3 linked regions of the Homo sapiens genome follow. Changing the gene in region 2 together with the main gene of any one other region gives a genetic interaction. Each region holds a gene or a part of one and is shown on either strand. Other genes may lie near its edges. The genes, in order: METAP2, CSTF3 and COPS4.

Region 1 (3,658 bases), on a different chromosome or scaffold from region 2:
GTAGATATTAAAAATCCCGATGTTGCAGGCTGGAATTATTATGCAGTGACTAAAACATTAAGTCAAACTGTCACCTACCATACCTTGAAAGGCAGACCACATACCAAACAAGTTGTAGAATTAGGAGAAAATGAAAGGAAAAAGAGAAGACATTGGTATATGTTGGCTAGTGTTGGAATTTACAAAAATTTCAGCAAATTCTCAAAAAAGAGAAATAACTAACTCTAGAGGTAGTCCCCCAAGCAGACTGCTACAGTGTGTACTCCAAGTTGACATAAGACTCACGAATTTGGAAATAGATTCTGTTCATTTGTAGCAGTGAACCTAGAAATCAGAAGGCCCATGTTCTAGTCCCATAAATTCCTCAAATTAACTTGGCATTTATGCTCTTAATCTCAGCTTTCTTTGGGTTAAGAATCTTGCTTCTGGGGAGCTCATAAAGTGTTAATAGAAGCAGCAACTCCTAAAACTGGTTCTAAGCTATTTAAAGAACTGGACAAAACATTTTCCAAAGAAAAGCACACTGGAAATGAGATCTTCTAAATTCTAGCCTTTAAAAATCTTTTGCTTTCCTTATGGCTTTGGCTAGGATACAAAGAAAAGTATGTTTACCCTTACTAAGGAACATAGTAAATTTAAATCATGTCTTAATGTAAAAATAAATTGTAAAAATTTCACATAACAGTAAGTAAAAGCCAAAAGTAGAATATGTGAATCGGCTGGGTGCGGTGCCTCACGCCTGTAATCCCAGACTTTGGGAGGCCGAGGCAGGCAGATCACCTAAGGTTGGGAGTTCAAGACCGCCTGACCAACATGGAGAAACACCACATCTACTAAAAAAAAAAAAAAAAAAAAAATTGCTGGGCGTGGTGGCGCATGTAATCCCAGCTACTCGGGAGGCTGAGGCAGGAGAACTGCTTGAACCTGGGAGGCGGAGGTTGTGATGAGCCGAGATCGCGCACCATTGTACTCCAGCCTGGGCAACAAGAGCAAAAGTCTCTCTCAAAAAAAAAAAAAAAATCATGAGAATCATGGAAGGTTATCTAATGCTATGATTTTTATTCTCCTCCACATGTGCTTTCACACTGAGAGGAGCCACTAGGGGAAAGGCTGAGTATGTAGAGAAAAGGCGTAATAAGGTGGTATCTCAAAGGAGGTGGAGGATTAACACTGAAAAGAAGATCCTTAACGCAGTGTTTGAGCTAACAATTTAAAAAAATTTTAAAGAAAATACTGTATAGAAGACAGAATATTTCTTCCTTGAAGAACAGAGATAAAAACATAAGAATAGGGAGAAGATGGGCAAATCCCGGCATTTGCCAATCCTGGTATTTTGCCATGTTCTTTATGCAACGTGGAAAAAATGTTAAAGAGTGTTAGGCTTGTTTGGCTATTTTTCTCATCAGGTAAGTAATTTCCTGGATGCGAAGAGCGATTTGGAAGAGCCTGAATAAGCACTGTATTTGTGGCACTAATCCCAGAATTGGGGTGAGAAGGGGACAGAATGACAAATATTTGTTGAATACTTAATAAATTCCAGGCACTATCACACAATTTACATTTCTCAAAATAAACTAGATACCATTAACCCTACTACAGTCAAGAAACTTGGGTATTCAGGTTACAGATTTATCTAAGACTCCAAGTAAAAACTGCCTGAACCCCAAAGTGTGTTTTCTTCATTATCCCACACCTCCTACCTAAGTGTGAGTAACATCAAGAGTATTCTGGGCCGGGTACAGTGGCTCACGCCTGTAATCCCAGCACTTTAGGAGGCCAAGGTGGGCAGATCGCCTGATCTGGCCAACATGATGAAGCCCCATCTCCACTAAAAAAAAAAGTCCAAAAATTAGCCAGCATGATGACACACACCCGTAATCCCAACTACTCGGGAGGCTGAGCTTATAGTGATCCAAGACTGCACCACTGCTCTCCAGCCTGGGTGACAGAACGAGTAAGACTCTGTCTCAATAAATAAATAAATAAATAAATAAATAAATAAGTATTCTGCTTTGCACTTGTGTTCACAGGATTAGAGATCTTAAAGAGAATATCTGAAAATCAAATAACAAAGAAGTTAAAGATATAGATGAGAGAAGAATTAAAGCTGCCAACACAGGGTCTAGGCAGGAGGAAGGGAAATGAAACCTTGAAGAACAATGAAATGGAAGAATATCTTGATATCAAAAAACATATATAGGCTGGGCACGGTGACTCATGCCTGTAATCCCAGCACTGTGGGAAGCCGAGGCGGGCGGATCATGAGGTCAAGAGATTGAGACCATCCTGGCAAATATAGTGAAACCCCGTCTCTACTAAAAATACAAAAATAAATTAGCTGGGTGTAGTGGCGCATGCCTGTAATCCCAGCTACTTGAGAGGCTGAGGCAGAAGAATCGCTTGAACCCGGGAAGCGGAGGTTGCCGTGAACCAAGATTGCGCCACTGCACTCTAGCCTGGGCGACAGAGTGAGATTGCGTCTCAAAAAAAAAAAAAAAAAAGCATATATATTAGAAATAAAAATAAATATTTTTTAAAAAATACAAAAATTAGCCAGGTATGATACTGTACATCTGTAGTCCCAGCTACTCGGGAAGCTGAGCGCACTCCACCGAGTGCTTGAGCAAGGGGGTTGGGCTGCAACCGTGCCACTGCACTCCAGCCTGGACAACAGAGGAAGACTCTTTTTTATTTTTTTCCCCAGACGAAGTCTCACTCTGTCGCCCAGGCTGGAGTGCAATGGTGCAATCTTGACTCACTGCAACCTCTGCCTCCTGGCTTCAAGTGATTCTCCTGCCTCAGCCTCCCGAGTAGCTGAGATTACAGGTGTGTGCCATCACGCCTGGCTATTTTTTTTTTGTATTTAGTAGAGACGGGGTTTTACCATGTTGGCCAGGCTGGTCTCAAACTCCTGACCTCAGGTGACCCACCCACTTTGGCCTCCCAAAGTTTTGGGATTACAGGCGTGAGCCACCACGTCTGGCAGACTCTGTCTAAAAAAAGAGTTGGGCACGGTGGCTCATGCCTGTAATCCCAGCACTTCGGGAGGCCGAGGTGGGCGGATCACCTGAGGTCTGGAGTTCGAGACCAGCCTGGCCAACATGACAAAACCCCGCCTCTACTAAAAATACAAAAAGCAGCCAACTATGGTGGCACACGTCTGTAATCTCAGCTACTCAGGAGGCTGAGGTAGGAGAATGGCTTGAATGGCTCGAACCTGGGAGGCAAAGGTTGCAGTGAGCCGAGATCGTGCCACTGCACTCCAGCCTGGGTGACAGAGCAAGACTCCATCTCAAAAAAAAAAATTTGGCCGGGCGTGGTGGTGGGCACCTGTAATCCCAGCTAATGAGGAGGCTGAGGCAGAATCGCTTGAACCCAGGAGGCAAAGGTTGCAGTGAGCCGAGATTGCATCATTGCATCCCAGCCTGAGCAACAGAGCGAGAGACTGTCTCAAAAAAAAGTTTAAGTCTGGTAATAAATTTCAGTATTTAGACATGAAAGAGGACTGTTACGTTGGTGGTAACTGTCTATATAGAAGGCACGGTCAGGTTCCAGAGGAAGAATCACTTCTGCTCTTGGTAGAAACACATAATGGGCAACAGGAAATGCAAAGAATGCTGAATGGTGTGAATTTACTAAGAGGCAAGAAAACAACATG
Region 2 (2,357 bases):
TTAGTAGCCTCTCTAGATTCTTTTTGAACAAGGCCCTTCTGATTAAATACACTGTTGAATAATTGACTTGAAACAGGATTGCTAAACAAATGACTTGTGTAACTCAGAAACACTCTTTGACAAAAACTGACTTTAGTTCAGTCCCTGGTTGTCTTACACAAAGTCACTTGTCTACTTCTCTGCCTCCCAGTGGCCACGGCATTGAGACTGCTGTCTCACCCACTTTGGTTTGGTAAAGCCCTAGAAGTATTTTCAGTGTCCAGAACAAAGCAGCAGACATGGAAGATCTTTATGTGCAAGTCACTTGATTTTAGCTCTGTGTAGAAATTCTTCCATTCCACTTGATTCATACTTTTCTTTTTCTCACAGCTCCAGGTTTACACCCTGTACCTGGTGGAGTGTTCCCAGTCCCTCCTGCAGCTGTTGTTTTAATGAAACTTCTCCCTCCTCCTATCTGTTTCCAGGTTTGTTCACTTATTTTCATGGTAGATACTGGCTCTGTGGGTCATAGTAATTGTGTATAAAGTTACTACTACTTTAACTTGTCAGATTACTGGGATTAAAATTTATTCATGTCAAAAATAGGGTCCTTTTGTACAAGTGGATGAACTGATGGAAATTTTCCGAAGATGCAAGATACCAAATAGTAAGTAACAGAAGCTCCATTTCAGAGTGTCATTCCACGTTGTTGTCTCATAGGCAGTAGAGATTATTATTCTCTGCCACTGAAGTTTTCGAAACCAGCCAGCCAATTTGAAGTGCAGTGAAACCCAGGAGTTACCCAAACCCTCTTTGGCAGAGAAAGGCTTATTCACATTGAATTCCACTAAGTAAAATGTCATAAAACTTTATCTTTTCTATTCATGTGAACATGCACTATCAGGCTTGGCTTATGAAAATTATTAGTTTTAACAGCAGCTTTTGTCTTTTTCTTTAATTATTTAGTATCAGTAGTACTATCCCATGTTTTGCTAAAATAGTAGGCTATGAAATAAAGTATCCACAGTTGAACATACATACCCTTTCATAGTGGAATATGTTTTTACGTTTTGTTGTTTTGTTTTAATAGCTGTTGAGGAAGCTGTGAGGATCATTACTGGTGGGGCCCCAGAGCTAGCTGTAGAAGGCAACGGCCCCGTGGAAAGTAATGCAGTACTCACCAAGGCCGTCAAAAGGCCCAACGAGGATTCAGATGAAGATGAAGAAAAGGGAGCCGTTGTCCCCCCTGTTCATGACATTTACAGAGCACGGCAGCAGAAGCGGATTCGGTAGGGTTTTAAACGCCTCTGCAGAAAACTCCTGTCCAGGATTCCTTTTGCCTCAAGTGGTATGTTTAAAAGAGACAACGCTTTGTTACAAGGTTCTTGGAAACAAAGTTGTATTGTCATTGGTGCCTCTATCACATGGTTCTTGAGAAAAAACAAACCAACCTGTGTGAATTTTAGAATACGGAACAGACCTATGCTCTAAGCAAAATTAGGTTTTCAAAAATGTGAGAACAGTACAAAGTGGCAGAACCACATTTTGTTCCCTCTTCAAGGGTGTCTTGTATGTGCCGCTTGAAGATTTGTGAGTTTTTCAACAGTTTTATTTTAAAAACTGGATGGCTTATGATTGTAAAGCATTTTATCACATTTTCTGAAAACAATTGTTCTTGGTTTGCTTATGTAGAGTCCTGCCTTATTGTTTGTTTTTATTTATGGCAGAATGTATGAAATCCGTTTTGTAGTTTCAAATTTTAAAAGTCCTTTAAAAAATAAAAGGATTCAGAAACATCATGCTTCCTCTGCTTCTTTCAGATTTTATTTACAATAACTACTTATGTTATTTATCCAATACCATTTAAAAATAAATGTCAGGACAAGGAAAAGTCATCTTGTATTTACTGAATGTATTAATCACATACTCTTTCCTGGTCTGTCTTTTTTGGTGCTAACTAAAAACATTTTTAAGAGGCAAATTAAACATTTTAGAAATCCTCAAATATGAATGCATTTGCTCCCCAGTAAATCTGAGGCAGATTAAGATCCTGTTAATACTTTTGTCTCTCTTGAAAGCAACCTAAGTGTGGAAATTCCTTTAACCACCTGCTGTCTTGTTCTCACATAGAGTATCTCTTATCTAAAATACTTGGGACCAGAAGTGTTCAGGATTTTGGATTTGTTCAGATTTCAGAATATTTGCATCATACTTACCAGTTCACCATCCCTAATACAAGAGTACAAATTCCACAAAACTCCACTAAGCATTTTCTTTGTGCATCATGTTGGCACCGAAAAGGTTTTGGATTTTGGAACATGTTGGATTTCAGATTTTCAGATTAGGGATACTCAACTTGTATATTTTCACAGGGGCCC
Region 3 (3,658 bases), on a different chromosome or scaffold from region 2:
GGATAGACTTTATTGAGGATAGCCTCAAAGGCCCCTTCTAACTCAGATTCTGATTCTCTCTTTGTTGTCCCAAACACAACAGTTTTAGTGGTTTTCATCTCTAGAGTGAAAGTCAATAACATCTAGAGTTTACTGTGCGAAGCACAACATTACTTACATTTAAAAATCCTTAACAAGTAGGAGTAGGTGATAGTAGTGATATTATTTACATTATAATAAGAGAAAACCAAAGTACAGAGTTGAAATACCTTGCTCTGAGGTCACACAGCTAGTGGTGAAGCTAGAAGACAGTCCATATCTGCTTGCCTATGAGCCCTTAACTCTAAACAAACACATCTACCTTTTTGGCCTTATTTTCACAAAAAAAAATTGACTACACTTCAGATAGTGATTATTTTTGCCTAGAATGCCTGTCTTCCTACTGTTATTAAATTGAAATACTTAGAATGTTTAAAGATCAACCCCATCCAATGATTTCTCTCTCCTAAAAATTATATTAGCACTTACCTGTTTTTTTTGTTTGTTTGTTTGTTTTGTTTTGTTTTGAGATGGAGTTTCACTCTTGTTGCCTAGGCTGGAGTGCAGTGGCGCGATCTCGGCTCACTGCAACCTCTGCCTCCCGGGTTCAACCGATTCTTCTGCCTCAGCCTCCCAAGTAGCTGGGACTACAGGTGCATGCCACCACACCCGACTACTTTTTTTTGTATTTTTAGTAGAGACAGGGTTTCACCATGTTGGCCAGGATGGTCTCGATCTTTTGACCTTGTGATCCACCTGCCTTGGCCTCCCAAAGTGCTGGGATTACAGGCGTGAGCCACCGCGCCTGGCCAGCACTTACCTGTTTTTAAGATTTTGTCTTTAATTTTGTGTAGCTTCATTATGATATGTCTGTGGATTTGTTTTTACTTTTCTATGTCAGTTACCCTTTGCTGTGAAATAAACCCCAAAACTTAGGGCTTAAAACAACAGTCACTTATTTAGCTTATAATTCTGTAGGTTGGTAGTTTGGATTGGGCCCAGCTGTATGGTTCTTTTCTGCTCCACGTGGTCTTGGTTCCACATGGGCTCCCATGTGGGTCTATAGTTAGCTGCCAGCCAGGCCAGGTAGGCAGCTCTGCTTCTGTGGATTGGCTGGCTTGTTGGCTGGGGCAATATAGTTGACTGGGCTACATATCTCATTAGCCAGTATGTTAGTCTGAGCCTGTTCATGTGACAGCAGCAGGGTTCCAAAAGACAAACACATACAAGGCCTCTCGAGGTCTGGGCTCAGAACTAGCACTTCATTTCTACCACGTTTTATTGGTTAACCCCAGATTCAAGGGGTAGGGAAATAAACTCTACCTTTTGATATGAAGAGCTACAAAGTTGTATTGTAAAGGGACATGGGTACTGGGAGTGAAATTATATTGTGGCCGTTTTTTGTAAGCACTCTGTCACATTATCCTGGTTAAGCTTCACTGGGTTTCCTGAATCAATGGATTAAATCATTTCATCAGTCTTGAGATGTCTTCAGTTATATCTCTTTATTTTATTTTAGAGACAGGGTCTTGCTCTGTTGCCCTGGCTTGAGTGCAGTAGAGAGATCATGGCTTACTACAGCCTTAACATGCTTGGCTCAAGCAATCTTCTCGCCTTAGCCTCCTGAGTAGCTGGGACTATAGGCACGTGACACCATGCCTGGCTAATTTAAAAACATTTTTTTTGGTACAGATGGGGTCTCCCTATGTTGCCCAGGCAGGTCTCGAACTCCTGGGCTCAAGGGATTCTCCTGCCTCGGCCTACAAAAGTGTTGGGATTACAGGTGTGGGCTACTGTGCTTGGCCTGTATCTCTTTAAATGTTGCCTCTGCCCCATTCTGTTTCTCCTCTAGGCTCCGGTGAAATCCCTGTCAGGCCCACTGACTATAACCTCTAGGCCTCTTACTCTGTCTTTTCCATTTCAATGCTTTATTCTGGATTAGTTCTTCAGGCCTACCTTCTAGTTTATCACTTCTTCAACTGTGTTTAATCTGCCGTTAAGTACTCCATTGAGTTTCTAAGTTGGGTTGTATTTTTTAGCTCTGTAATTTCTGGTGGTTCTTTTTTCCAATGATACTTTTTATGGCTCCTGGTCTGTTGCTGAAACTTTAAAGCTTGTCTTTATCCCCATGAACATTGTAAGCATAATTGTATCATGCTCTTTCTGATAACTCCAGTCAGTATTTGACGTTTTGGTTGTTGCGATTGTCTGTTGCTTTTGTTGATTCTAGAGAGAAATTTCATTACCTGAGGGTGCTAACAGTGTATAATCAAGGCTTCAGAATTTTTTTGGTTTACCTGGGTGGTCTTGGGATAGAATTTGTAACCTTACTTCCAAAGTGTGTGTCTCCTCCTTTGGCAGAATATGGAACTTCCATTCCCATTTGTGCAGCTCTATTAGTCTGCCAGAAATGGCAGCTTGCTTCTCAGTGCTTCCAGCAGATTCGCAGTGAGCCCACCTTCTCCTCCCTACAAGAAGTGCCACTCTACCTCTCAGCCATCTTTCCACAGTCAGCAAATGCCTTTAGACAGAATATATGGTTTATCTTATTTTCCTCATTTTACCTTTCTTGTTAGGATTTTATGCAATTACATTTTTTTTTTCATTTCTTTCAGCTTTTTATGTTGGCTTTTTTTTTTTTTTTTTTGAGGGAGGGTTGGTCCAGTCGTTTAGTTCACCATTACTGTAAGTGGAAGATCTGTTAATACCTACCTTTACCACCCATTGTGATCTTAAATGATGACTGTGGTACATTTTCATGCTTTATTTATCTCCAGATTCCTTTCAAGTGCCAAGAAATTAAGAATCAACATACTGAATTTGGTTCATATACATTAAAGATGCTCAATTCACTGATGATAAATGGATAGGAGAGATGTATGATGCCTTAGTAATAAAACTTATTTTCCTCCATAAGTTTTTTTTTTTTGTTTTTTGTTTTTTTTTTTTGAGATGGAATCTCACTCTGTCGCCCAGGCTGGAGTGCAGTGGCATGATCTTGGCTTACTGCAATCTCCACCTCCCGGGTTCAAGCGATTCTTCTGGCTCAGCCTCCTGAGTAGCTGGGACTACAGGCACACGCCACCACGCCCGGCTAATTTTTGTGTTTTTAGTAGAGACAGAGTTTCACCATGTTGGGCAGGCTGGTCTTGAACTCCTGACCTCAGGTGATCCGCCCACCTCAGCCTCCCAAAGTGCTGAGATTACAGGCGTGAGCCACTGCGCCCGGCCAAATTTTTTTAAGGAAGAAAATATTTGGCACTTGTCACATTCTCCATATCAGTCACATTTCTCTTTGTATACTGAGTACTCATATAAAAAGCTATTATTATCTACGAAGCCTTATTTGACAAATCTAGTCCATTTTTGTTTTACTCTCACTCTGTCACAGGCTGGAGTACAGTGGCTCACTGCAGCCTCCACCTCCTGGGTTCAAGTGATTTTCCTGCCTCAGCCTCCCGTGTAGCTGGGACTTACAGTTGTGCACCATCACACTCGGCTAATTTTTGTATTTTTAGTAGAGATGGGGTTTCTCCGTGTTGGCCAGGCTGGTCTTGAACTCCTGGCCTCAAGCGATCGTCTTCCTTGGCCTCCCAAAGTGCTGGGATTGCAGGTGTGAGCCACTTCACCTGGCCTTACT

What was found.
Region 1: changes in CSTF3 (region 2) and METAP2 together harm fitness more than expected from each alone (negative genetic interaction), as found in Homo sapiens cells (one large-scale study listed by BioGRID).
Region 3: changes in CSTF3 (region 2) and COPS4 together harm fitness more than expected from each alone (negative genetic interaction), as found in Homo sapiens cells (one large-scale study listed by BioGRID).

What each region holds. Positions count from the first base shown.
Region 1 is NC_000012.12:95,505,140-95,508,797, reverse strand, and holds part of METAP2 (methionine aminopeptidase 2), read right to left. Parts: intron 1-3,658. UniProt on the Homo sapiens protein: Cotranslationally removes the N-terminal methionine from nascent proteins. The N-terminal methionine is often cleaved when the second residue in the primary sequence is small and uncharged (Met-Ala-, Cys, Gly, Pro, Ser, Thr, or Val).
Region 2 is NC_000011.10:33,084,002-33,086,358, reverse strand, and holds the end of CSTF3 (cleavage stimulation factor subunit 3), read left to right. Parts: intron 1-369; coding exon 370-464; intron 465-585; coding exon 586-646; intron 647-1,069; coding exon 1,070-1,272; 3' UTR 1,273-1,775; downstream 1,776-2,357. UniProt on the Homo sapiens protein: One of the multiple factors required for polyadenylation and 3'-end cleavage of mammalian pre-mRNAs.
Region 3 is NC_000004.12:83,038,114-83,041,771, forward strand, and holds part of COPS4 (COP9 signalosome complex subunit 4), read left to right. Parts: intron 1-3,658. UniProt on the Homo sapiens protein: Component of the COP9 signalosome complex (CSN), a complex involved in various cellular and developmental processes.